4 linked regions of the Homo sapiens genome follow. The protein of the gene in region 1 binds, or shares a complex with, the protein of each later gene. Each region holds a gene or a part of one and is shown in the gene's direction. Other genes may lie near its edges. The genes, in order: PHF20, KANSL3, KANSL1 and OGT.

What was found.
Region 2: PHF20 (region 1) and KANSL3 share a complex: the UniProt entries of both Homo sapiens proteins name them as parts of the NSL complex.
Region 3: PHF20 (region 1) and KANSL1 share a complex: the UniProt entries of both Homo sapiens proteins name them as parts of the NSL complex.
Region 4: PHF20 (region 1) and OGT share a complex: the UniProt entries of both Homo sapiens proteins name them as parts of the NSL complex.

The regions. Positions count from the first base shown.
Region 1 is NC_000020.11:35,942,998-35,950,023, forward strand, and holds part of PHF20 (PHD finger protein 20), read left to right. Parts: intron 1-4,487; coding exon 4,488-4,630; 3' UTR 4,631-7,026. UniProt on the Homo sapiens protein: Methyllysine-binding protein, component of the MOF histone acetyltransferase protein complex.
Region 2 is NC_000002.12:96,600,307-96,607,332, reverse strand, and holds part of KANSL3 (KAT8 regulatory NSL complex subunit 3), read left to right. Parts: intron 1-285; coding exon of another isoform or gene 286-363; intron 364-1,795; coding exon of another isoform or gene 1,796-1,821; coding exon 1,822-2,013; intron 2,014-2,469; coding exon 2,470-2,554; intron 2,555-2,952; coding exon 2,953-3,083; intron 3,084-4,470; coding exon 4,471-4,580; intron 4,581-4,994; coding exon 4,995-5,217; intron 5,218-5,556; coding exon 5,557-5,690; intron 5,691-6,829; coding exon of another isoform or gene 6,830-6,859; exon of another isoform or gene 6,860-7,026. UniProt on the Homo sapiens protein: Non-catalytic component of the NSL histone acetyltransferase complex, a multiprotein complex that mediates histone H4 acetylation at 'Lys-5'- and 'Lys-8' (H4K5ac and H4K8ac) at transcription start sites and promotes transcription initiation.
Region 3 is NC_000017.11:46,036,430-46,043,455, reverse strand, and holds part of KANSL1 (KAT8 regulatory NSL complex subunit 1), read left to right. Parts: intron 1-3,571; coding exon 3,572-3,754; intron 3,755-4,240; coding exon 4,241-4,429; intron 4,430-4,769; coding exon 4,770-4,918; intron 4,919-7,026. UniProt on the Homo sapiens protein: Non-catalytic component of the NSL histone acetyltransferase complex, a multiprotein complex that mediates histone H4 acetylation at 'Lys-5'- and 'Lys-8' (H4K5ac and H4K8ac) at transcription start sites and promotes transcription initiation.
Region 4 is NC_000023.11:71,536,083-71,543,108, forward strand, and holds part of OGT (UDP-N-acetylglucosamine--peptide N-acetylglucosaminyltransferase 110 kDa subunit), read left to right. Parts: intron 1-95; coding exon 96-276; intron 277-1,746; coding exon 1,747-1,990; intron 1,991-7,026. UniProt on the Homo sapiens protein: Catalyzes the transfer of a single N-acetylglucosamine from UDP-GlcNAc to a serine or threonine residue in cytoplasmic and nuclear proteins resulting in their modification with a beta-linked N-acetylglucosamine (O-GlcNAc).

The DNA.
Region 1 (7,026 bases):
TATTTTTAGTAGAGACAGGGTTTCACTGTGTTAGCCAGGATGGTCTCGATCTCCTGACCTCATGATCCGCCCACCTTGGCCTCCCAAAGTGCTGGGATTATAGACGTGAGCCACCGTACCCAGCCCTAAACTAAGCTTTCATAACCAAGTTTTAAAATAGGAATTTGGATGTAACATTCCTTTTTTAAAAAGCCGGCCTGCTTAGCTGGGTGTGGTGGTGCACACGTATAATCCTAGCTACTTGGGAGGCTGAAGCAGCAGAATCTAGGAGGCGGAGGTTGCAGTGAGCTGAGATCATATCACTGCACTCCAGACTGGGCAACAGAGTGAGACTCAGTCTGAAAATAAAAAATTTAAAAAAATTTAAAAGCTGACCTGGCGTGGTGGCTCACACTTGTAATCCCAGTGCTTTGGGAGGCCAAGGAGTTCAAGGTTACAGTGAGCTATGATCGTGTCACTGTACTCCAGCCTGGGTGACAGAGCAAGACCCCATTTCTTTAAAAAAAAAAAAAAAAAAGCCTAGTAAGCTATTATATGAAATATATATATATATATGCCATTGTTTTACAATTGGCCATTATTTAATTATTTATGTAGTTATATGAATAGTACTTTATTTATTTATTTATTTATTTATTTTTGAGACGGAGTCTCGGTCTGTTGCCCAGGCTGGAGTGCAGTGGCACGATCTCGGCTCACCACAACCTCCACCTCCTGGCTTCAAGCAATTCTCCTGCTTCAGCCTCCCGAGTAGCTGGGATTATAGGTGCACACCGCCATGCCTGGCTAATTTTTGTATTTTTAATAGAGACGGGGTTTCACTATGTTGGCCAGGCTGGTCTCGATCTCCTGACCTCATGATCTGCCTGCCTCGGGCTCCCAAAGTGCTGGGATTACAGGTGTGAGCCACTGCACCCAGCCTGAACAGTACTTTAAAACTAAAAGACAAAGGATATTTAATGACCATGAAAAGTAAAAAAGTCTTTTGGCATTAGAGAGATTATTTTCTTAAATAAAAAATGTTGCCTTGGTGAGCAGTGGTCTCTATACACATGATCTTAGTGTATTTGAACAGAATTTTTTCCTCTGTAACCTTCTGTCTTGCTAGCAACCACTATGCTAGTTGGAAGCTGTTCTGCATCTTTAAAAGAGACACTTGGGATGGTGCAGCACATGGTATGGAGAGGGTGGCCTGCTGGATGCTGGGGTCCAGAGGAGATGCTGTTGACTTCCCACAGTCCTGGCTTTGTTCTTCAGCCTAACAGACCTAGACAGACAGCTTCCATCTCAGGAACTCCACACACTCCTGTTAACCAAGCTCAGGCACTACTGAGTGGCTTAGACTCTTCCAGTCTGAGCGTTGGTGCGCTTTCACACTGTGCATGCCTCCTGGGCCACCGTAGTATCGGGATGTCTTTGGTGAGCCTGGAACTAGATCCAAGGTAGTTAGGGTGACCTTAAGAGGGGCCTCTCAGCAACTGTAGGATCATCTTGCAAAAGATTGACTGACTCTCTTTGCTGTTGGAGTGACCCATCCAGTCCTGACTGCCTTTTGTCCATTTATTTATTTTTATTTTATTTTATTTTTTTAAGACGGAGTCTTGCTCTTTCTCGCCCAGGCTGGAGTACAGTGGCATGATCTCGGCTTACTGAAGCCTCTGCCTCCCAGGTTTAAGCGACTCTTCCTTCCTCAGCCTCCCAAGTAGCAGGCAGATGCCTGCCACCACACCTGGCTGATTTTGTATTTTTAATAGAGATGGGGTTTCACCATGTTGGCCAGGCTTGTCTTGAATTTCTGACCTCAGGTGATCCACCTCCCTTGACCTCCCAAGGTGTTGGGATTACAGGCGTGCACGTCCGGCCTCTCCATTTATTCTTCTGCCTGTTTGCTGAACAGTCCCCTGTCTCCTTCTAGTTTTTTTTAAAGACTTACTGGTGTTTTGAAACTGGTCACTATCCAGTTTTCTTGCTCAGCAGGCCACTAGTTCCTCTCACATGACTGATCTTTTACTAATGGTTTTCAAGCTTAAGTCTGAGGAGGTGGTCTTATTTTTCTTATTTCCAAGTCCTTGTACTTGCTGGAATTAGGAAGAGAGAGGGTTCCTCCTTCTTGGAACCCCCAAATACCAACAAGAAATATGATGGAGGAGGATAAACTACATAGGGCCCAGAGCAATGGGTAGGGCGCTTTGCTGGACCACACATTCCTTCTCTCGCTGTGTTTGTTGCAGGCTTGCCACATTTCAGACACAGGTGAGTGTTAGGGATATAGTGGCAAGCAAGGCAGACTCAGCCTTTGCCCTCGTGGAACTTGATCTAGTGGGAGAGACATATATTAAACAAATCATCCCATTACCTGTAATGACAAACCATAGTAAATGCTCAAAGGAGAACATGTGATATCATAGCACCTGTAACACAAGGACCAGATTCAGGGTATAGGGTTGGGGAAGGCTTCCCTAAAGAATAGCTCACAAGAAACAGAGGATTTAGAAAGGTGGAGAGGAAGGTAGGGCTGCATCTGAGGACAGGAGAGGATTGCGCAGTAGGTTGCAGGCTGCTTGATGAAGAGGTACTGGGTGGGCCTTTCTTTTGCTGCACTCCAGGGTCCAGAAGGTGCTCAGTACAGGTTGGTGCATGGACTAGAAAGGCTACAGGCAGGCTGGGATAGCACAGGGGCTACCTGCAGGGGGTGGTTCTTGTCAAAGGTGCAGGGTTCCCAGATGGTCTCTCCCCAAATGCCAGAGCTTTAGGGGGTAGCTTAGGGAAGAACAAACATCTTTCTGTAGAGAAATACTTGTTCTCACAAGCAAGACAGCTTTCTAGATATTGAACCAATGATGATAATGTTAATTAATACCTGAAATCTTACATTAAATATTTAAAGGGGTCCTGCATGGTGGTTCATGCCTGTAATCCTAGCACTTTCAAAGTGGCCAAGGCAGGTGGATCACCTGAGGTCAGGAGTTCGAGGCCAGCCTGGCCAACATGATGAAACCCCATCTCTACTAAAAATAACAAAAATTAGCCAGGCGTGGTGGTGTGTGCCTGTAATACCATCTCCTCAGGAGGCTGAGGCAGGAGAATCGCCTGTACCCGGGAGGCGGAGGTTGCAGTGAGTCGAGATCATTGCCATTGTACTCCAGCCCAGGCAACAAGAGCGAAACTCTGTCTCAAAAGAAAAAAAAAGGCCAGGCCCAGTGGCTCATGCCTGTAATCCTAGCAGTTTGGGAGGCCGAGGTGGGTGGATCACCTGAGGTCAGGAGTTTGAGACCAAAATACAAAAATTCGCCGGGCGTGGTGGCACATGCCTGTAATCCCAGCTACTTTGGAGGCTGAGGCAGGAGAATCGCTTGAACCTAGGAGGCAGAGATTACAGTGAGCTGAGATGGCGCCACTGCACTCCAGCCTGGGCGACACAGTGAGACTCCATCTCAAAAAAATAAATAAATAAGTAAATAAATAAAGGGAGAAAATAATAACAGAGTATTCTGTGCCACTGATGATTGCGTATCAATCAGGAATTAATATGAAGCAAATCAGAGTTTATGATATACAAATAGACCTTTTCAAGACCCTATAGATTTTCATTTTTCTTGACAGGATGCTAAAACACCAGGCTCTCTGATTTTCAACATGGGAAAGCTTTTTATTTTTTATTTTATTTTATTTTATTTTATTTTATTTATTTTATTTTATTTTATTTTATTATTTTATTTATTTTATTTTTTGAGATGGAGTCTCGCTTTGTCGCCAGGCTGGAGTGCAGTGGCACGATCTCGGCTCACTGCGACCTCCGCCTCCCGGGTTCAAGCAATTCTCCTGCCTCAGCTTCCTGAGTAGCTGGGACTACAGACGGGCACCACCATGCCTGGCTAATTTTTGTATTTTTAGTGGAGATGGGGTTTCACCATGTTGGCCAGGATGGTCTTGATCTCTTGACCTTGTGATCTGCCCGCCTCGACCTCCCAAAGTGCTGGGATTATAGGCATGTGCCACCGCGCCCGGCTGGGAAAGCTTTTTAAAGAGTGAGTGGTAACACTCAGAAAGGTGCTTCCTTCCAAGACTTCTAGACTCTGGTAACAGTAGCCTCTGGCAATGTGTGGCTGTTTAACCAAAACTGAATAAAATTTAAAATTCAGTTCCTCAGTTGCATTAGCCATGTTTCCAGCGCTCAATAGCTGCATAAGGCTAGTGGCTACTGTATTGGATGACACAGACTTGGACCATTGATCATCGCAGAAAGTTCTTTTGGACTGTGCTGCTCTAAAGCATTTGTGTTTTGTCCTGGGAGTACCACTTTGTAGAGCAGGTGTTGACACAGTGCTGGCTGAAATGGCCCTTCCTCCCTTGCCCCATGGAGGCTGAAATGGCCCTTCCTCCCTTGCCCCATGTCTGATGGAATAAGGTGCTGAAATGCTTGCTGATGTTCTTGCAAATCAAGTGTTGGGAGTTCACTAGGTCTCATCTCTCTCTTCTGCCGACAGTGTTGGAGAGCTGGCTGGACTACACTGGGGAACTGGAGCCCCCTGAGCCGCTGGCCAGGCTTCCGCAGCTCAAGCATTGTATCAAGCAGCTGCTGATGGACCTGGGCAAGGTGCAGCAGATCGCCCTCTGCTGCTCAACATGAAACTGGGCACCCAAAACTCATGGGGGCACAATCCTGGGGCACCTGCAGGAGGAGCTTCGCATATTTAAATAAATAAACCTAGCATGCTGAATGCACGTGACACCGACTGACTTCAGGGATCTGGGCCAGGAGTGTGGTGGACATTGGACAAAGAGGCCATTTTGGCTGCGGGAGGACACTCTGATCTCGAAGCCTGCCATAAAGGTAGCAAATAGACTCTTGGGATTCCCCTCTTCTGTGCACATCGTTGAATGAAGAGAGTCTTTTTGCACAAACTTCACTTGAAATTGTGCCACTGATGATAAACGGAATGAGAGCCAAAAAAGTTTAGTTGGAGACAGTTGTAAATTCAATTTGGAGTTTATTTAATTGACTTTTCTATCACGTTGGGGCACATGCCAACTCCCTGGTTTCTTCCTGGCATGGTGTTTGGGCAGCAGGCATCATTTTCCTTTTCTAGCTTCATAGGAATATTGTGAGCTCACCATGCTGTGGAGGTTGGGAAAGAGCAGAGTCTTGGCTGCCCTGCTTTCTCCTTAGGACTCTTCACTTTTCTCACCACATCTCTTGCATGACTTCATGGTACTGGGGACAAGTTTGTATGCCTTCACCCCAGAGCTGGCTGGGTTATGGCTTTTGTAGCAGAGCCCATACAGCCTATGGAAGAACTAGAATCTCACTCACAGTAATAAGAATCTAGGAGGAATTCCAAACCGAAGCAGGCAGGGTCTGGAACCCAAAGGACAGCATTTTCTACCCACTTCTTAATATTGACAGCTTCCCCGTTCTATTTAATGTCCAAAAATGTTTCCCAAAATTTCAAACTCTTTCACTGTAAAGATTTGTTACAAAGAATGTGGTTTGGGGAATTACCTTATTTTATATTGTTGTAAACAAACTTCAAATTCTACATGTGCGACTTTTCTCCTTCCTGAAGGGTGTTTAGTAGTCAGCGTTTTCAGAATTGTTTTGTTACTATACTTTAACATTTTACATTTCCTGTTTGTATTATTTTGTGAGAGCAAGGTGATCATGCTGCTTAAGGTCCAGGTACAACCTATTTGTACCTTTTGAGACAATATTTGTGTTACTTTTGCAGGTTACGGTTCCACATGTAATTGCTATATTTTGTTTTGTTTTTCCTTACTAGGCAAAGTTAAAATGTTCCATGCTTTGAGGAGTGACCCATTTCACTACTTTGTTTTCTTATCACTAAAGGCAAAAATCAAAGCACAGTTGTCCATTAACACTTATAAGTTAATTATGGGTTTATGAGTCTGTAATGTTATATGCTGCAAACATTTACTATGTAAACGTGAAGTAGCCAATAATATCTCAATAGTAGTAACAGTATCTTTAGCGACCTTTGGAATAGTTAAGCACAGGTCATTGTGGACATGAATTCAGGCCTCTGTACTAAAATCTATTTCAGGGAATGTTCTGTCTAGTGATTTGCTCACCATTTGATATATAATGAATTATAGGACAAGTATAAGCTGATCTGCTATAGCTGTCCATCAGAGAGAATACACGTGGCTATAACATCTATAACAAAACGACGATTCCTCTACAAGAGGCTGTTTCTCACTGCTAACGTTGGTGTTTCTGGCGTGGGAAGAAATGCACAGGCGTGCATGGCATGCACGTTCAGACAGCTGCATTGTAAGAGTTCTGTCATGCAGTCTGAAAAGGGAAGAAACAGGATGGCTTTCTGTAGCCACACCTGTGAGGCGTGATGATTGTTGTATTATTAGATTACTGATTTTTCTTTTCTGAAAATACATTTGAGTTTTAATCACATCTGTGGAAGCTGTAACTTTTAAGGTAGTCAATTTCATGTCTTGTTCAACGATGTAAGCAGAAACTGAATTGCCCTAATTTTGCCAACTGGCCATTATTGGGATTATTGTTTAAATTTTTGGTAAAGGAAGTAATCTCCTTTCATTCATTGTGACTTTTGTTCTTAGGGAAGCAGAGAAGACTCCCCAAGTTCTTATAACCTCATTGTGCTTCCCTAATTTAAAGCCATGTTGAGGGGCTCCATTCCCAATTCCTGGGTCAAGGTGAATTAACCCTATGTTGGAGCACTGGAAACCGTTATTTGCAAACATTGCTGTTACCATTTAGAAATATGTGCACTATCAGCTGGGTGCAGTGGCTCACGTCTGTAATCCCAGCACTTTGGGAGGCCGAGGCAGGTGGATCACCTGAGGTCAGGAGTTCGAGACCAGCCTGGCCAACAGGGTGAAACCCCGTCTCTACTAAAAGTACAAAAATTAGCTGGGCGTGGTGGCGGACGCCTGTAATCTCAGCTACTTGGGAGGCTGAAGCAGGAGAGGTGCTGGAACCTGGGAGGCGGAGGTTGAAGTGAGCCGAGATTGCGCTATTGCACTCCA
Region 2 (7,026 bases), on another chromosome or scaffold:
TACTAATAGCGAACATATATGGAGTCCTTGCTGTGTGCCATGCCTTCTTCATGGCACTCGCATTGCTGTAGTTTGTTGAGTTTTGGCATGGCCCCATGAGGCAGATAGTACTATTCAGTTTTAGATGCTTCTACAGACTGACTCCGTGGCAGAGTCAGGTTGCCATGCAGTAATTTCAGAAGGAGCCCCTATTGGCCATTTTCTACAACCTTTTTTCTTATTCCCTCTCTTTTTCTCCCTTCTCTGGCTGGCTGTGATTCTGTAATTCTTTCTGATTCATTCCAGCACAGTTTGCTGCTTTTCTGAAACAAAATATGCTGGTGAGGAAAGCTCTTCCTCCTGGCACCTCCTCCTGTCTCTTTGGTGAGTATTACTCTTTCTTGCCTGCTCGTCCACTACATTCTGCTCCTCAACCCCTTATTTATTTTCCATCTCTGCCTCTCATCTGCCTCAGTTTGGTTTCCTCCTGTTCTTTTCTCTCTCTTTCTTTGTATTCTTTTGTTTTGCTGACCCCTTTTGCTTACTCTGTAGTCTTTGCCCTTTTTCCATTCTTTTGTTTGCTTCTCATGGTGTTTTCTTTTTTGTCTCTTAGTGTGGTTCTTTCTTTCACTACGGTCTTGGCTCTGCTGCTTTTTTGTATGTCTGTGGCATTGCCTGAGTCTCAGTTTCCTTGTGTGTTTTTCTCCCTGCCTCCTGTCCTGTGTTTATCTGGTGGCTACAAGCCTACCAGCCACATATCAGCATAGAACCTGAAACTCCTTTCCCCTACACCCTCCTTCCTACTCTGATTTTAGCCAGTGCATTTGTCCCCTAAGCAATCCTTCTAGCTGGTTATGTCCTGACTGTTGCCTCATGCCAGGACCCCTCCTCCCTCCTCATGTGACTGCTACCTTCCTCCCCACACCAGTCTTTGCTTCCCTGTGCTACAAGAGGACTAGGGTGGACTTCTGGGTTTAAAGAGGAGGGAATCTTTGAGGAAGCTTGAAAGATAACCTAAGAGTCCAAAAAGCTTGGCTGTATACATGATGAGCCTGTTTGATTCAGTGGAAGTGGAAGCCCATGTGTGAACAGATGGCCTTTGTCTGTACTAGTACACATGACCTGGGGACTAGGTTGTGACATGGGCCAGTGTTGCCCTGTTACTTTTGGGTGGGAGCCGTGAGGTTGCCTGGTTGAGGTACTCTCTCTCCTAGTAGCTACTCATAGCCAGCTTTTAGTCCTGGTGACACTCCTCTTCATTGCCTCCATTTGGCAAGTGGATCCTCAACTGTGGGCTCTTAGGGCAGGGTGGGACTCTTGAGAGCCTTTGGAAAACTCTACTTTTTAGAGAGGACTGGATGACCTGCTCCTCCATGAGTTCTCATAGAATGTTTGATGTCTCCAACTGTGTGATGATGTGGGGAGGGCTTCAGACAGGAAGATGATCACATTTTTTGAGTCTGAGAAGGACTGTTTACTCATTCTGTTGAATCCTCTATTTTTGTTGTTGTTGCCATTGGCCTTGGCTAGGCAGGGTCAGGATGTCTTCTGTCTTTTAATTCCTACCAACTCAGGGCCCCTTCTCTTCCGATTCCAGTGCAGGATGAGGGATGAGAAGGGTGCCATCCTCTAAGAAGGGCAAAGTGGGGTCCCCCACGGACAGGGCCTGAGTGAAGTGGTCCTGAAGCATGGGCAGTCTCCTTTGAGGGGTGGCCCTGTACGTAGAGTGGTTATCCTGTGTGTTCTACATTCTACACATGGCTGTGTTGGTGCTGGTATTGACTGAGTGTCTGTTGGGATTTTTTGGATTGTGGAGGATCTCAACTCAGCTCCATGTCTTAGTTCCCATTTCATCAGAACCACCAGAGGAAGGAGAGAAAGAGGATCTTAGGGTTCAGCTGAAGCGACACCATCCCTCGAGTCCCCTTCCTGGCAGTAAGACCTCCAAACGACCGAAGATCAAGGTGTCCCTTATCTCCCAAGGGGACACAGCTGGAGGGCCTTGTGCTCCTTCCCAAGGAAGTGCTCCAGAAGGTGAGTTTCTCTTGGTACGTTAAATGAGAACTGAGCTCTCTCAGGTACACAGCATTGCCCTTTGGTGGCCATTCACCAGCATGTCAGCCTTTGCTTTATTTTGAGAGATGCCCGGAGCAAAGAAGACATGAGTCTGTACATGTGGGTAAAGTTGGCATGAGTCCATCTGAATGAGGACCAGGCAGGCAGAATATGAGAGGAAGCTGTGCCATCGTTCAAAGCATCCTATATTTTGTTCTTTTTTTGTTGGCTTCAATTAAAGGTACAGAATATTTCAGGAAGTTTAGAAAATAGAAGGAAAAAATAACCCCAACTCTCCCTACTCTAGCATAGTTCATCTTTTTTCATTTTCCAGTTTTCGTCCGTAATATCTTGCATTTAGCCTAAGCTGTGGAACCTGGAAACATAGAGGCCAAATAGGACTGACCAGGGGCCTTGGGGTTTTCTGTTTTGAAGCTGCAGGTGGGAAGCCCATCACCATGACACTGGGGCAGGCTTCAGCAGGGGCCAAGGAGCTCACAGGACTTCTCACCACAGCCAAGTGAGTGTTTATTGGACCATCTGTGTCTATTCCTTTTTTCCCTTCCCTCTGTTTCTGGTTTATTTAGTGCTTTGGAAAATGATGGATTCTGGATTCTTGTCAGTTTTGGAAATGTGACTTACTTCTGATTGGGATCTTTGTCTTGCTTTTGAGTCAACCCAGAGTTCACTTTTACTTAAGACTCCAAATCGTCCCCTGGCTTTTGCTATAAGTCCTGTAAGTAAGGACTTTTAGAAGACTAGAGGCCAGGTACAGAAAGTGGGACAAAGAAGCTGAAGGTTTTTGGTGTATGTCTGCTGCTGAAAGCCTTGCTGGGCCCCACTCTGTACCCTGCCAGTGTTGCTAGGGCTTGCTGTCCTGTGACCTTTGGATAACAGAGCTCCTTCCTTTGTCTCCAGGTCCAGTTCTTCTGAAGGTGGAGTCTCAGCCAGCCCAGTCCCTTCAGTGGTCTCCAGCAGCACTGCACCCAGTGCCTTGCACACACTGCAGAGCCGCCTGGTGGCCACATCTCCTGGCAGCTCCCTCCCAGGTATCTTGTGGCCCAGCATTCTCCCCTTCCAACACAGAATTTTTGGTCTGCTGCTTCTGGGTGGTCCTGGGAAAGCATCCCTGGAGCTAAATCCATAGGATGGGCCTCTGGGTCTTAGAGTGATCATAGAGGCTTGACGTGAAGCTGGAATTAGCTTGGGCAGAGGGATTCCTTGGCCTTGAATAAATGCAGTGAGTAAATGTCCTGGTCTGCAAGTGAGTAAATGTTCCAGTCTACAGGTGCTGTATCCTCTACTGTAAGGAGAAATAGCCGATAGGACATATATGTATAGTCAGCCTTTCTTATCCACAGGAGATTGGTTCTAGGACCCTCACCACTACCAAAATCCATGGATGCTCAAGTCCCTTATATGAAATTATGTCATACCGTTGGAATTCTATATCCACAGGTTTCTATCCGTGGTTGTTTGAATCTGCAAATCTGCTGTGAAGCTCACAGATAATTGAGAGCTGACTGTGGTTTTACTTTGCTGTTTTAAGCACATCTGCCTGAATAAAACTGGAAATGGTGCTACACTGGGCATTAGCAAAATGAGACATTTTTCTGTCTGTGCTTGTCTCTCTCTTTGTCCTACCCACTAACCCTACTTTGAAAGGCCTGTTGCCTGAGCCCAGCAGGGCCAAGGCATTGCAGAAACCCTCTCCTGGCCAGGCATGGTGACTCACACCTGTAATCCCAACACTTTGGGAGGCCGAGGTGGGTGGATCACCTGAGGTCAGGAGTTTGAGACCAGCCTGGCCAATATGGTGAAACCCCGTTTCTACTAAAAATACAAAAAATTAGCCGGGTGTGGTGGTGGGCACCTGTAATCCCAGCTGCTTGGTAGGCTGAGGCAGGAGAATCGCTTGAACCCAGGAGGTGGAGGTTGCAGTGAGCTGAGATTGTGCCATTGCGCTCCAGCCTGGGCAACGAGAGCGAAACTCCGTCTCAAAAAAAAATAAAATAAAATAAACCCTTTTCCTTTAAGAGAACCTTTCTTATTGCTTTGAGGCTACTTCCTTACTGCTTTGATTGTGTGAGGCGAAGTGAAAGTTGGATATTTATAATTCTTTTGGCTTAAAAAGTTCTTCCCTGGAAAGAAAGGAACAAACTTGGATTTCTCAAAATGGTCTAAAATGTATGACTGATGGTTTGCAGCAGGTGCAGAGCAAGTCCGGGGCAGTGTCTGGCACAGTACCTTTCCTGTGTGGCATCCATTGCGTGTGTGCCTAGTTGGGGAGAGCTTCCTGCCTTCTCTCTGAGGACGGGTGTCCAAGGGCAAGCACCACTGGTGTTTTAGTTGGTGGTGAGGGTGGATGGATGTGGCTGCTCTCGGGATAGTGCAAGTGATTGAGTCTCTACTGATTCCTGCTATGTCCTCTCTTAGGGGCCACATCAGCCAGCAGCCTCCTCCAAGGCCTCAGCTTCAGCTTGCAGGATATCAGCAGCAAGACCTCTGGCCTTCCAGCAAATCCCTCCCCAGGACCAGCCCCACAGGTGCACATCTGCCATCTGCTGGGCTGGGCAGGTGTAGGGAGGAGGCCTCCTCAGCTTAGTTGGTTTTGGCAGGGAAACTAGGTCTGGAGTCAGTGGATCAAGGACAAACAGCCTTCTAGCTACATAGCAGGGAACTTACAAAAGTTAAGGTCTATCATTTACTGTGTGACCTTGGGCAAGTTTCTTGACCACTCTGTTTTTGTTTCTTTGTCTATAAAATGAGGTAATAATAGTACCTCCCTCATAGAGTTGTTATAAGAATGAAATAATATATGCAAAATGCCTGGAAGAGTACCTTGCATGTAGTAGGCACTCAATACATGTTAGCCTTTAATAATATGCTGTGGGCCCTCCAAGCTCGAATGTTGCTGTTGGGCGACAGCTTCTGATCACCTGGGCTTGTGTGTCCCACAGGCCACCAGTGTGAAGTTGCCCACCCCCATGCAGAGCCTGGGTGCCATCACCACGGGCACCAGCACCATTGTCCGTACCATTCCTGTGGCCACCACTCTCTCCTCCTTGGGTGCCACTCCTGGTGGGAAGCCCACAGCCATCCACCAGCTGCTGACCAATGGGGGCCTCGCTAAGTTGGCAAGCAGCCTCCCTGGCCTGGCTCAGATCTCTAACCAAGCATCAGGTGAGTCTCTCATGAGAACTGTGGGGACTCCCAGATCTGGGATCTTTCCCCCAGGACCTTCCCATCTCATGTGGGCAAGGTATGATGTTGAAACCAGTCCCACAGGGTCCTGGCATTGACCTTTGGATTCAGCTGTGTGGACCCATCCCCCAGAGAGGTTGAGAGAACACAGGCTGTTTCCTGTTGCCTTTCAGATTGACTGATAGGGCATAGATGACCCAGCTGGGGAGGAGGCCAAGGGACTGTGTTATGTGGGGGAGAAGCTCTCCAGGAAAGGAAAGCCTCAGTAGAAGGTGGAGAGTGTGACTCAAAAATTCTGCTTCTCTCTCTTTATCTCAGGCTTGAAGGTCCCCACCACCATTACTCTGACACTTCGTGGCCAGCCGAGCAGGATCACTACACTGAGCCCTATGGGCTCAGGAGCAGCCCCATCCGAGGAGTCCTCTTCCCAGGTGCTGCCCTCCAGCTCACAGGTGAGTCTGCCAGGAAGGACTGAGGACATGGGCTTCATTATTGGGAAGTTTAAGACCAGCTGACTGGCTGATTGAAGGGGCTGCCCATGCACTGGACAGACGAGATTCAGATTCAAATTCAAATCTGTATTCTGGAGTTTGTGGCTTTATAATATTGAGCGAATCATGGACATCTTTGAGCTTCCTCTTCTACATCCCTCCCTTGATATTGTGAAGAGTACATATGTTCAAGTGGGTAGCAGTGTCTAGTATTTAATGTTTTTGTTTACTTTTCCTTTCGTTTCATTTTTTTCTCATCCTTGGTTTCATCCTTCAGAGGTTATGAGTAGAGGCTACTTGGCTAATGCTCTTTCTTTGTTTTTATTTTTATTTTTTGAGATGGAGTCTTGCTCTATCGCCCAAGCTGGAGTGCAGGGGTGTGATCTCGGCTCCCTGCAACCTCCACCTCCCCGGTTCAAGCAATTCTCCTGCCTCAGCCTCCCAAGTAACTGGGATTACAGGCGCCCGCCACCATGCCCGGCTACAACAGGGTTTCACTGTGTTGACCAGGCTGGCCTCGTACTCCTGACCTCAAGTGATCTACTTGTCTCGGCCTCTGAAAGTGCTGGGATTACAGGTGTGAGCCACCGCTCCTGGCCCTTTCTTTGTTTTTAAGGACATGGAGACAGAGATATCTCACTATGTTGCCCAAGCTGGCCTTGAACTCCAAGGTTTAAGTGGTCCTCCCGCCTCGGCCCCCAAGTATAATACTCTTTCTTTGACATTGGCTTTCTAGCACTGTGCCTTCCCATATCTTAGCATTTATTGCTGTCTTTTTAGGGCACAGCTAGGTTTTTATAGGTCTCACCCAGGAAGTCATGATTAGTTTCTCTTAGCTGATCTAATTTCCCCTGTGACCTTTTCAAGTCAAATATTTCTAATCTTAAAATGGTAATCTGAGGAGCCACTCAAAGATTAGAAGTTAAGCCAAAAAACAGTTTGAGTCTAGTACTGAGTGTGCTTTCCTTCAGTATCCGCTATACAGCCAAGGCCTTCCTGTGTCTCCCTGTCCTTTCCACCATGTCAACCTGCTTGTGAACTGGAGGTGCAGTGATAGTTCCTGAGCCATTCTAAAAGCTCTTCTGTCTCTTCCTCTTTAGGGAAAATACTGCACAGAGGTCAACACCTGACATTCGTTGGGATCATAGCTACCTTTTTTTGCAGAGGGATGGAAATGTTTTAATTTTATCTTATTTCTTATTTTTTCAATTATAAAAATGATTATGCTTATTTTAAATAATTCAAACATTATAGAAATAATTAATTTAGAAAGGGAAAGTTTCCCATGATGCTACTC
Region 3 (7,026 bases), on another chromosome or scaffold:
GTGGAACTAAAGCCCAGCTGAATGATTTGTTCTTGCTTTCTCCTTCTACTCGAGATAGAACCAGGACCTGAATCCAGGCCTACTTGTTTCTAGTCATTGCTGTTTTCACTATAACCAGGTCTCTCATATCCCTGTCCCTTTTTTTTTTCCTGGCTTCATTTTCAGATTTGGGAGAACGATGGGGGAAAATAAAAGGAAAAAATAAAATCTATGTTTTTTGGAGTTCCATTACATATATATACAAAACATACACAGCCTTTGCCAAGTGGGAGTAACTCTTCTGCTGACAAAGGGGTATTGTGGGATGGGCAGAAGTGACCTCGTCTCCTTTCTTGAGCCTCTTTTATACATTCCAGCTCAGCCCAGCTTTCAGATTGTTTTACAGGGCCGAATGCTTCTAGACAATGCTTTATTTCCTAGGATTTGGTATAGCTGAGTTTTTAAGTGTGGAAAAGAGTGATTATGAAAAATGTTTGAGAAGACAGCACTGTCCTCAGAGACTGTGTTTTTACACTTGGACAGGTAGCAAATGTTTGTTTTCATTAAAACTTTAATAGTTTTCCTAATTTGTTTCACTGTCATAAAGCCCAGCAATCATGGAGCTGAGGGTGCTTACCCACTGGGAAAAATCATCCCTGAGAATGTTAGCTTTTTTTTTTTTTTTTTTTCCCCAACTCAGATTTTTATTCCAGTCCTGGAAGGCCTAACATTCAGTCCTCGAAGGCATAACATTCAGTGTCATGAAATTCATCATCTATACCATAGGCAGGAGTGGCTAAATTTCTTTTACTCTGCAGAACTGGCTTGGAAAATATTTTGTACTGTCTATTTCTTGGGAGTAATTTGAGAAATAATTGACTTTACTACAGAATCCTCTCCATCCTCTGGATCAGTGAGTAGCCTCAAGGTATATTGTCTAAGAGTATGGGCTTTAGGGTTGTATAATCTTGAGTTTGAAAGTTGGTTGTTACTCATTAAACTATGTAACCTTGGACATAGTTAATGTACCTTTCTGCACCTGTTCCCTATCTTTAAAATAAGCATAATTGTGTTTGCCTCATGGAACTGTTACAAAGATTAAGTGGCACACGCATGATGATAAACACACAGTGCCTGGCAGATAATAATGGGTTCAGTAATGTTAATTTAGACGTCTCTTCCCTGCCTTCTTATCCTCAGTTCAGATTGAGCATATCCTCTGTGCTCTATGGGACCCAAAACCCCATAAGCTTTTAGAAAATATATTAAACAGGCCGGGTGCAGTGGCTCACGCCTGTAATCCCAGCACTTTGGGAGGCCGAGGCAGGTGGATCACGAGGTCGAGATCGAGACCATCCTGGCTAACACAGTGAAACCCCGTCTCTACTGAAAATACAGAAAACTAGCCGGGCGAGGTGGCGGGTGCCTGTAGTCCCACCTACTCAGGAGGCTGAGGCAGGAGAATGGCATGAACCTGGGAAGCGGAGCTTGCAGTGAGCCGAGATGGTACCACTGCACTCCAGCCTGGGCGACAGCAAGACTCCGTCTCAAAAAAAAAAAAATATACACACACACACACACACACACACACACACACAAAATAAATTTCTAATAGTTCTAGAAGACATGCTATCAGTGACTGGAATTTGTAATTATTTTTGAAAGATGGATAAAGACAAGATAACTGTGAAGAAATAAATAGAAAGATAGCCCAAAGCACATGCCAGGAGTAAGTTGCTGTGAGGTGGGAACTGATTACAGGAGGTTTTTGACCCAGAATTAAAGGGCAGAAGGAGTAGTGATAGGACCTGGGCATTTGTCTGGGTGATAAATTTGGACTCATTTTGGAATAGCTAGGTTAGATTTTCCTTTCCTGTCCTCTCACCCCACCAGAGCCTTCTTCCTTGAAGTAGTGGTGTTTCATTCTATTCTGAAGCAGTGGATAGGGACTCTGGCGGGAACTTCTGAGCATGCCCCAAGTGGTTACCGATTCCCAGGAGGAACTGGGAGGTGAGGAAAAATGTGCTGGCTTTTAGATTTGAATATCCCTGGAAAGCTTTGCAGAAGCTTGAAAACAGACTCACACCGCTATCCATGGTGGTGAAATGTCAGAATATTGAAAACATGAAAAGGAAAATCTAAAAGTTGTACATCAGCACCAGAGGTTCCAGTCAGAGTAATAGGCAAGAAGTAAAAAAGGAATACAGATTGGAAAGAAAAGGTAAAACAGTCTCCATTTGTAGATGATGTACTTATGTCTATAGAAAATCCTACTGAATAAACAAGAAAAAGTCTATAACGAAGTAGTTTCACAGGCTACAAGGTCATTATATAGCAGTTTATTGTACTTCTATATACTAGTAATGAAGAACTGAAGTTGAAATTTTAAAAGGTACTATCTTTAATCATTTCCATCTGAGACTTTTGTCAGCCTGGCCTTCACTGCCCGTATTTCTATCAGTATTTTGGTCAAAACCATTTAACAAATCTCTAAGAAGTTCCAGACTTTCCCTCATCTTCCTGTCTTCTTCTGAACCCTGCAAACTCTTCCAACTTCTGCCCATCAGAAAACATTAATTCTTAGGAATAAACTTAACAAATTGTATTTAAGACCGGTATGTCAACAATAACTAAACGCTGTCAAGAGAAAATCAAGACAAACGTAAATAGATGGAGAGAGAGATACCACGTCAGTCGATTGAAAGATTCAGTATTGGTGGTGGAACACATGGAAGTTGTCCCCAAATTGATCTGTAGAGTCAGTGTAATACCACAAGTTTGTTGTTGTTTTTTGCAGAAGCTTAAAAGGCAAAAACCAGACCACCTACAAGTAAGAAAGAATCCGATTCCCTCTTAAATATAGCACTGGATATTAGAATACACGGAAGAATTGAATAGCTTTAAATGTTTGAGAGGAAAATGGTTTAAATCTAGAAATTCCTTTTCTAAAGGAATTGCTCAAGGATATATTCTTGGGAAAAATCTAAGAAAATGGAAAGATAAGAAACAGCATAAAAAATTCAGTCCAAAAGATGTTGATTTGTGATATTGAACATTAACCAGTCAGCTAAAAATCCCCGATAATCTCATGATGGGAATTGGCGGAGCCACAGAGGAAGGAAAGAGAGAATGGTATGTAGTTCTTATTTGGAGAGAGTATGTAGTACTCAGTACAGTGCCTGATAACATAGATAATGAATATTGTTGAATAATTGCATCCTGATTAACTTTATATTGATAGAAAAGAAGTAGGCTTAAATATGTTTTTAAATCTCTAGAATAGAAACAGGATGTTTTCAAACCAGTAAATTCAACAAACAAGGATACAAGAACAAAAACTCCATCAACCAAACCAAAAAGGTGTCTTGTTTTGTTTCCCTTTGGGACTTGAAAGTAAAAAGCTAAAGTGACCTGCTTGCAAATAGAAGAATGACCTTCAGTAATGTTCACGTAAACAGATCTTCCATATGACAGCACTTGCCCTGCCAAGTGTCAGGCCACTGGGCAAATTAAAGGAGGATGGAGTGTAGGTCTTGAACACTAGAGAGGCCAGGTGTTTGGACTAACCTGTAGCATTTTATGTTTCTTGCAGATGTTCCCACAAGCCTGCATTTCCAGAGCATGCTGAAATCTCAGTGGCAGAACAAGCCTTTTGACAAAATCAAACCTCCCAAAAAGTTATCGCTTAAGCACAGAGCACCCATGCCGGGCAGTCTGCCAGATTCAGCTCGTAAGGACAGGCACAAATTGGTCAGCTCCTTCCTAACAACAGCCAGTAAGTGTCAGGGAGCCGGGAAGTCCCCCAGAGTATCAGTGACTTTTCATTCCTTTTATATTCTCAAATTTGTAGTTTGCATGCATGTTGGGGTTGGGAGAGGCAGTTGACCGATAAAAAATTCAGCTCACAGTGACTGCTTCTGCTTGTCTTGGATGCTCTCAGATGGACTTCGGGAGCTATTCTAGACACCATGGATCTTGGAGCAAGACCCAAAATGCTCAGTGAACAGCCAGCAATGGCATGGCATTGAGTTCATCTACGGGCAGGTGTCTTCTGTATCCTGGTGACATGTTTCTCTGGTTCTGGGCTCCCTGTGCCTATCCTAGCCATTGTGCAAATTACTAGAAACTTCAGTCCTGAAGGACTGTCCTGCTGCCCTGGGTATACGGCGTTGGCCTAGAGAGAACTCGAGAGCTTGGAACTCGAATAAGAAAATATTTGAGAGGACATATTTCACAGCTCTTTTTCTGTTCCCCTCTTCAGAGCTGTCCCATCACCAAACCCGGCCTGACAGGACCCACAGGCAGCACTTAGACGATGTGGGGGCCGTGCCCATGGTGGAGCGAGTGACAGCGCCAAAAGCAGAGCGCTTGCTCAACCCACCACCACCCGTGCATGACCCAAACCACAGCAAAATGAGATTGCGAGACCATTCATCTGAGAGAAGTGAAGGTAGGGCCAGGCCCATGGCACCTCTACCTGCAACTGCACCTGCTCAGGGCTTTCTGGGGCAGCCTAGGCTTCTCTTAATTACCCCCAGCTTTGTCCTTCACTTTCTAGGAAAGCAGAGTAGAGGGACGCTACTGCTTCTAAATGGAGGTCACTTCTTAACTGCTACAGCAACCTCTGCCCTGCCCCTACTTCCCACAGCTAGTGTGCTTCACCTTTTTATCCTCTAGGCATAGAAAACATTTTTGCCTTTAGTATGTATTGCTGCCATTCCAAGCTTGTGTTAGAAGTAACGCTGGTTAAGATAGCCATGTATTTCTCTCTTTTCTGTTGACTTCTGCAGTGTTGAAGCATCACACAGACATGAGCAGTTCGAGCTACTTGGCAGCCACCCACCATCCTCCACACAGTCCCTTGGTGCGACAGCTCTCCACCTCCTCAGATTCCCCTGCACCCGCCAGCTCTAGCTCACAGGTTACAGCCAGCACATCGGTAAGTACCTGTGTGGGGTTGGCCGGACACCCCCTCTGCAGGTCACAGCTCACTCAAGTGGCTCCAGAGGACAGTGTGAGGGTGGGTTATAAAGCCCAGGGCATTTATAGGATCTCAGCTCATCATGACATATGTATGTATGTCTGTACCATTTTTAAGTCAAAGTCATGGTACTTGACCTTCTGTTGTTTTTCTTGAGTTGTTTTTCATAGCAGAGATGGATTTATGCTGAGCCATCCATAGAAAGCTTGATGCAGGGACAAACTCTTAAGGTGATCTGTGACTATTCAAGATCTGTTGGACTAAGTTTCACACAGGACTCAACAGTTCCGTGGCCCTAATCCTGTTGGCCCAAGAAGTGAACAAGAGAGGAGGGGTGGGTAGAGGGGAGATTCCCATGGGCGTTGGAAGCAGTGTTTGATTTCCTTGGTTTTACTCTCTGGGTGAGTGGAGGTGAAGTACTAAGAATAAACACTAGGCGTGAGGGTACCAGAAGAGAAGGGAAGGGAGAAGGCAGAGTCCATGCTTTTTAGGTATACAGAGCAGAATTACAGATCCAGCAGGCCCCCATGGCAGGACATTTGGCATGCACACACCAGATTTTACGATACCACACTCCATCTGGAAGCAGTTTGCACAGCTATTCCAGACACATTTCCTTTAATTTCATTCTAATATTTTAATTCCTCAAGTGTGCCCTCTTGGAACATACATACCTGTAGCTGCTATGGACCTACTCAAAGGGTCCTTTTTGTATAATAATTACAATGTAATGTAATGGTAAATGTAAAAGTCTGCAACTGTAATGTTTATTGAACACTTACTACATACCAGTGATCAGTGATTTACATGTGTTACATGTTATAATGCCTTTTGAGATGTAGGTTGGTACTGTGGATTTCATTTTATATGCATGAAAACTGTCAAGGCAACTTGTGAGGGTTATAATTATGATTCAAACTCAGGCAGCCTGACTGTAGAGCCAGCTCTTTTACCATTACACTACACAGGCTAAGCCTGGGTGAGGGTATTGCAGAGGCAACTTAGGAAGTTCCTTCAGAGCCTAGATCAGGAAACTTCCAAGCTCATAAAATGGACTCACTAGGCTCCTGTGATCAGGTAGGAATTCACATTGTTCTCTCTTTGCTGTTACAAATCAATCTTTTCCAAATGGTCTCTTTGCTCTTCGACTTTCTTTACCCCCGTAACCCACAAATTTTATCTAAATAGGTGTGTAGTGTCCCTCACATACTCAGTTATCCAGCAGCAAAGGGTTTCAGATAACCAAAGTATTTATAAAAAAGAGTCTAAACTAATTCTGATAGAAAATCTGAACTCAGAGATTCAGGACTTGGTGAGCACTTCAATATTTCTGTGTCTGGAGAATGTTAACTTAGGCCTGGATCACTTGAAATTTTTACCATTTATTGAGTAAAAATTTTGTGTATAGCACTATGCTAACCCCTGAGGCTCTCTCATTGCCAAGTTTTTTCAAAGACTCTGGATTTATGTAAAAGAAGATAGGCCAGGCACAGTGGCGCTCACCTATAATCCCAGCACTTGGGGAGGCGGCTGAGGCGGGTGGATCACTTGAGGTCAGGAGTTCGAGACCATCCTGGCCAATAAGGTGAAACCCTATCCCTACTAAAAATACAAAAATTAACTGGGCGTGGTGGCATGTGCCTATAGTTCCAGCTACTCTGAGGCAGGAGAATCACTTGAACTGGGAAGCGGAGGTTCCAGTGAGCGGAGATCAAGCCATTGCACTCAAGCCTGGGCGTCGCAGCAAGACTTCGTCTCAAAAAAAAAAAAAGAAAGAAGATAGGCCAGATAACAGCAGGCTCTCAGTATCTGCAGTATCTGCAGTGGGGATTGGTTCCAGGACCTCCCATAGATAGCAAAAGCTATTGTTGCTCATGTCCCTAATATAAAATGGCATAGTATTTGCATATAACCTATGTGTATGCTTTAAATCCCATATACTTTAAATCATCTCCAGATTACTGATAATACCTAATGCAATGTAAATGCTATAAAAATAGTATGCTGTATTGTTTAGAGAATAATGAAAAGAAAAATCTGTACCTTTTCAGTACAGACACAATTTT
Region 4 (7,026 bases), on another chromosome or scaffold:
AGTTAAATATACCATATTTTTACATTTTTTTGGTTTACATTTCTAACTTTTTGTTTTCCCCCCTCCTTCCCTCAAATGTTTTGATGATTCTCCAGAACCAACGAAACGTATGCTTTCCTTCCAAGGGTTAGCTGAGTTGGCACATCGAGAATATCAGGCAGGAGATTTTGAGGCAGCTGAGAGACACTGCATGCAGCTCTGGAGACAAGAGCCAGACAATACTGGTGTGCTTTTATTACTTTCATCTATACACTTCCAGTGTCGAAGGCTGGACAGGTAGGAGATGTTGGGGTACCTGCTCGTGATTGCTGCCTCTGGGTGCTGAGCTTGAAAAATGATACTTAAATATTTGAACTTGAAATTTTTCCAGTACCGGGTTTCAACTGAGCCGCCAACGCACATCTGCTCTCTTGCCCACTTGTGACATGCCCAGCTGCCAGTTTTTCTCCTTCCTTTTGTGGTGGTGGTTATATTATCAGTATGACTAGGGACCTTTTCTAGATTTTTCTATCTGGGTCTGCTGCTTTCTAGACTCTGTTCAGGTAATAAATTATTATCAATGTATATCTGAGCATCCAGTCTCCCTTTCATGAGACCTGTCAGTTTGAGGGACTGAAATGCTCAGAAATGATGGTTATGTATGCTGTGGCAGGAGATGCATACCTGGAGTTTCATTAAGTTGTTATGGTGTGTTGCTTTTAGTTAATCAGTTGAATTAATCAAAAGGGAAGAATTTGTGTTCCTGTCCTTTTAATAATTGTTATTCTGGCATATTTAGACACTTAAAGATGTGCATCATTAAATCTTAAATGGAAAATGAGACTCGTGCACATAGCTTTCCATTTTTTATCTTAATGATCATGATTTCCAATGTGGTGGGTTTTTTTTTTTTTTTTTTTTTTTGAGACGGAGTTTCGCTCTTGTTGCCTAGGCTGGAGTGCAGCGGCGCCATCTCGGCTCACTGCAACTCTGCCTCCTGGGTTCAAGCGATTCTTCTGCCTCAGCCTCCTGAGTAGCTGGGATTACAGGCATGTGCCACCACGCCCAGCTAATTTTTGTATTTTTAGTAGAAACGGGGTTTCTCCATGTTGGTCAGGCTGGTCTCAAACTCCCGACCTCAGGTGATCTGCTCGCATTGGCTTCCCAAAGTGCTGGGATTACAGACATCAGCCACCGCGCCCGGCCAATGTGGTAGTTTTGTAACAAGACTCTAGTTAGAATTTTTTTCTTTTTTTTGAGGTGGAGTTTTGCTCTTGTCACCCAGGCTGGAGTGCAGTGGCGCAATCTCAGCTCACTGCAACCTCCGCCTCCCGGGTTCAAGCGATTCTCCTGCCTCAGCCTCCTGAGTAGTTGAGATTACAGGCGCCTGCCATCATGCGTGGCTAAATTTTTGTATTTTTAGTGGAGACGGGGTTTCACCATATTGGCCAGGCTGGTCTCGAACACCTGACCTCAGGTGATCCTCCCGCCTCAGCCTCCCAAAGTGCTGGGATTACAGGCGTGAGCCACTGCGCCCAGCCAATAATTTTATTTAATAAGAAAAAGCTTTTCATTTTGAAATCTAGAATACCTCCACTTTTGAAAATCTTTGATTTCCCAAATTTTTCTTGCTATGCACTAGTTAAAAGATAAGGTATTATATAATGAGCAATAGCACAGATCTCAAACTGTTTGAGTTGCATATGGGCCATACCTTCTTTTCTGTAACGTGCATACCCATGCATTAACACTTGTCGCCTTTTCCAGATCTGCTCACTTTAGCACTCTGGCAATTAAACAGAACCCCCTTCTGGCAGAAGCTTATTCGAATTTGGGGAATGTGTACAAGGAAAGAGGGCAGTTGCAGGAGGCAATTGAGCATTATCGACATGCATTGCGTCTCAAACCTGATTTCATCGATGGTTATATTAACCTGGCAGCCGCCTTGGTAGCAGCGGGTGACATGGAAGGGGCAGTACAAGCTTACGTCTCTGCTCTTCAGTACAATCCTGTGAGTAAAATTTTAATGGTTACTTTCCCTTCCTAGAAACCCAGAAAGAAACATAGTGTGATATTTCAGACACTAAAGTAGGTTTTCACATGGAATAAAGTCAAAAGTTTAGAAATGCGTATGTACTTAAAATGGTGAAATTGCTTTTAGCTGGTCTGCGTTATGCTAAAATATTTGTTTTATTTAGCAAGTTATATTAAAAAGCATAAAAATTCTTATTGCAAGAAACTACATCAATTTTAAAATAACACGTATAAAGTACAGAGCACATGACTTTTTTCTGTTGTGATTAACTTTGGATAAATTCTGATAAGTGTTTGCAAGTTAATTGATTTTCAAGGAATGGTGGATAATGGGTCTTAATCTGTAAAATCTGTAATATAAAATAGTTTGAAACAAGATGCCACTATATGGAATGATGTGAAAATTAGGCTACAAAATTTCTTCCTCAATATCCTATTCTCTTCTCTTTCAATGTAATTAGAAGTCATAGAATTTAGATGATACTACTTATACTGGGCTTTTGATTAGTTTAAAAATTTTTTTTGTCTAAGTTGCAGATGTGTTCTGGGAACAAGTAAGGCTCAGCTGGCAGACCTTAAATTCATACTGTGTTTAGGATCTCCGAAAGATACAAAAACATAAGACTTTCCCTCAGAACTTATGATGTAGTTAGAGAAAGTAGATGTAAACTTAAGAGGTAAATGATAGTGGGGTTATAGAAATCTAGAAAAAGTTCCCAAGTTACATTGTCAACATTCAGTTTTGTAACCAACCTGGAAATGGCTAATAGTTTATTTTAGCTACCGTTTACTGAAAGTCTGTGTGGTCAGACACTCTACTGACAGCTTTAAATGATTGGTCTTAGTTAATCCTCACAATAATTCTTCAAAATAGATGATATTATTTCTGATTTTTATCAATTAAAAAAAAACCATGGACTCAGGGTTATGTGGCTTTCATGGGGACAAAGCTAGTAATGAAGTATTAATAGATATTAAAACCTGAGTCTGAATATCCTCAAAGCAAATGTTGAAGTGAAAAGAAATAAAAGTGGGATGATGTGCCCAGAGGGCACTCACCCATCAAAGCAGCCCTTGAGCACAGTTAAAAAACCATTGATCATATTTTGCTGTCCCTTATTTTTTGGTTAGGAAACTGAAACTAAATTTAGTAGTTTGTTCAAAGATCCGAAGTCACTTCTCATGATGATATCTATTAACAATTTTTGTAGTTAATTTTGAGAGTTTAAACGTGTCCTTTTTAGAAAATCCATTGCTTTAAAAAACATTTTTTTTTAAGAGATGGAGTCTTGCTATGTTGCCCAGGCTGTACTCATACTCCTGGGCTCAAGCAGTCCTCCTGCCTCAGCCTCCAGAGTAGCTGGGACTATAGGTGTGTGCCACCACACCCAGCTTCTAAATTTATTGGTTTTTGAATGGATACAGTGAATACCTCCAGTTAGCACTCTTGGAGGTAGCAAATGAAACTAATTTCTTGTCTATCTTTTCTGAGACACTCAGTGTATATATATGTACATTTGAGTGACTTTTTGTAAGTTTTATTGCAATACTAATCTAGCTAGTTACCCACATAAAGTTTTAGGGAGCCTGGTATGTACTGCCACTGGGCCTTGGACCCCATTTTTCCCAGGGCTCAGGGCTCACCTCTGTACCCAGTTGTCACAGTAAGTTCTTTACCTTTATTAATCAGGTTGATTCTACTCTTATTGATAGTGTACCCTCTTACACAGCTGTGGTTCTTGCCATCTTTAACTCTAATGCCCTTGGCTCAGGTTTCCAGTTGCCTATGTGTGTAGCAGAGCAGTCATTGCTACTGATAGTGTACCCAAGCAGTAGGACTATGCTGAGAAGGAAAACTAAAGTGAGAGATGGAACCTTGCTATTTAATATCTAACCTGCTGTTAGCAGGAAGCTTATTGTTGTACCCTACCAAGGAAGTGAGATAGTACTAAAATAAATCATGGGATTACCTCTTGAATGCATTGAATGGCCATGTGTTGTCATCTGGTTCTATGTTTCTTCTAGTGGAAGGTGCTGCTTTACTTATTTATTACTGTTTTTACCAATAAGAATGAAAATGGGATTGTGCAAGTTCCCTTGATTTCAACTAAACATGCCATAGTGATCATATTTTAATTTATTTCAGGATATCTAAAGTCTTAACTAGATTTAAACTTACTGTCAAATGCCCGTTGTCAGTTCAGTACTGGTAGAACCTTGCGTCTGTTCCTTATGTTCTTGTTGACAGTGCTTAAATGCATCATTAGTACATTGTGTACCTGAATCATAGATGTAGTTGGCATTCTATGAAAAATGGTTAAAGAAACTCAGGTTATTTTGGTTTTGCAGCAGTGAAAGAGTAGAATGTTAAGGTGGTATCTTTGGTAACCTTGGTAACTGTTTTCAACAGTGTTTATCTTTTTAAGTTAATAGATATGTCAATTTAGAAGTTGTTCTCTGTGACTTGATTATAGAAATTATCTTTGAGACAGCTATCTCATTTTTTTCATTCTGAATTATCTTCTATAATTATAATGTTGGGTGTTTTCATAATTTTGGTAAGATTTTAGTCTGTCATTTTTTTTTTTTTTTTGGAGACGGAGTTTTGCCCTTGTCACCCAGGCTGGAGTGCAGTGGCGCGATCTCGGCTCACTGCAACCTCTGCCTCCTGGGTTCAAACGATTCTTCTGCCTCAGCCTCCGAAGTAGCTGGGATCACAGGTGCCCACCACCATGCCTGGCTAATTTTTTGTATTTTTACAAAAACAGGCTTTCACCATGTTGGCCAGGCTTGTCTTGAACTCCTGGCCTCAACAGATCCGCCTGCTTCAGCCTCCCAAAGTGCTGGGATTACAGGCGTGAACCACTGTGCCTGGCAGTCTGTTGTATTTGAAGGTGTTATTGCAGATAGCACCTTGCAGTGACAGCACATGTTCTTTGACATGGTGACTCACTAGAGTTGCCTATACCTGGCAATTCCTTTTGCAAATTATGTATAAAATTGTCCTTTCTGTAACGGCTATAACCCTGAGTTGTTTTAAACAGGTCTGTTTCTGAATCTATAGGTTGTTGAATTGTTGCTTGTGCTTTGATTGTGGATGCACAGAATGGAGAGCTGCTGGCATCCTGGCCATCATGTGTGTTCCTGTCATGTTATTTGTTACTTGTTACTGCTGAGCCTCTCTTATACAGCTGCACTGTAGAAAACCATATATTTCGATTCTTCTCTGTTCTGCTTTCTGTTGTATATTTCGATTCTTCTCTGTTCTGCTTTTTGTTAAGGTTGCTGTGCAAATGTCACATTTAAATATGTGAGTGCTTATTGTGCATACAATGCTTTGTTAGGAAATGGGGAGATGTGTTGTGGGGGAAGTTGCGGGTTATAATATAAGACAGGACCTGACCCGTAAAGGAAAAAATGGTGTAAGTTCCTTGGATGATAATTGTTGGAGAGTATTAATCAGAAGATTTCCTCGAGTGGGTGCTTATGACCTAAGCATTCTGTAGGAAGGTAAATAGCAAGTAGACTTCCTTGGCTGAAGTGGTGAGTCAAGTAGTAACAAGAAGTGAATGTAGTAGAGGAGAGTCAATTGGAAGATTTATAAAGAATAGAGAGGCTGAGGAGTTTGAATTTAATTTGAGAGGCAATTGAGAATTACTGTAGGTTTTTATCGACCTGATTTTACTTCATATGTATGTACGTGTCTAGATGTTGTGGCTGGTGGGGGTGGGAGGCTCTAGGAGGAAAGGCAGGAAACTGATGCAATCTTAGGAGAAATAGTTCTACAGGAAAATCTTGCTCATTTCTATCTCCTTTTATTCTCACGATTTTCCCTTGTATACAGTGCCCTCCTCCTTTGTCTATTAAAACCCTACTCATCCTTCAAGGCCCAGCTTAAACTTCTCTTATGAGCTCATCATCTAGTTCTCTTAAAATTCTTTACTACTGAGTGGGCATTTAGTGTGTGCCTTGTCTTTTCACATAGATTGTAAGCCCCTTGATGATAAGGATTCTATATCTTTTCCCTATAGTTCCAGGCATGTTATTGAATTGAGTAACAGTTTGCCTGAAATGTATTAACCTGGGATGGATAAAATGGGCTAGTTTTGAGAAATATAATTGTCAAAAACATTTTGATTTGACAGATGAAGCAGAAGTGATGTCTTGGGTTTTGAACTTTTGGGAGAATGGTGGTGCCCGTGCGTTTTCTAGAAATTAGCTGTTCATGCACATAGGTTTGGATCCCCAAACAGGAGAATTGGATTTCACCGTTACATTTAATATGATGTTTTAGCTTTTCCTAAAACTGCCTTATTGATTATCTTATAGTAATCTTGAAGATAATGTATTTTTAACTATGAGCATTGTGTTAACTTGATATAGTATACTGTAATGGATCTAGATGATAACAAAATATAGATATGCTGTCAGGACTTAAGTGGCATCCATCCAAGAGTTCATAGAAACTAGAGGGTAATAAAATTACGCAACAGCTGGCTACTATGTATGGCCATTACAGTCATTGTTGGAGAATTATTGCAAGACTTCTGATTATTATGACTTAGAAAAGGCATAGGAATTGGTAAAAGTCCAAACATGTATAACCACAATTATCAAGTAGTAGAAGGAGCTTGTATGCATGGATTGGATTATGCAGTCATGGTCTGCCAAAACAGGGGTAACCCTTTCAGTTTAGAAAAAAACATAACCATACAAAGTAGATAGCAAGATTATATAATTCATTACTTCTGAGAGTATAGTGTTAAAAAGTGCTCAGGCTAATTAGAGGAGAAGTCAAATAAGATTAATGGTACCTTTGATGTTTTGAGGATTAGTATTAGCCTTTTGTGCTTGAAGTGATGGGAGACAACCTTACTCTCTAGAACATCAGTCATTGCTTGAAGGACAGTATTGAGTCAGGGAGATGATGGAACTGACCCAGTATGGCTGACCGTAAGATTGTTGTGTGGCAGCCTGTACTTTGTTGGCAGACTTTTTGGTTCACCTGATGGA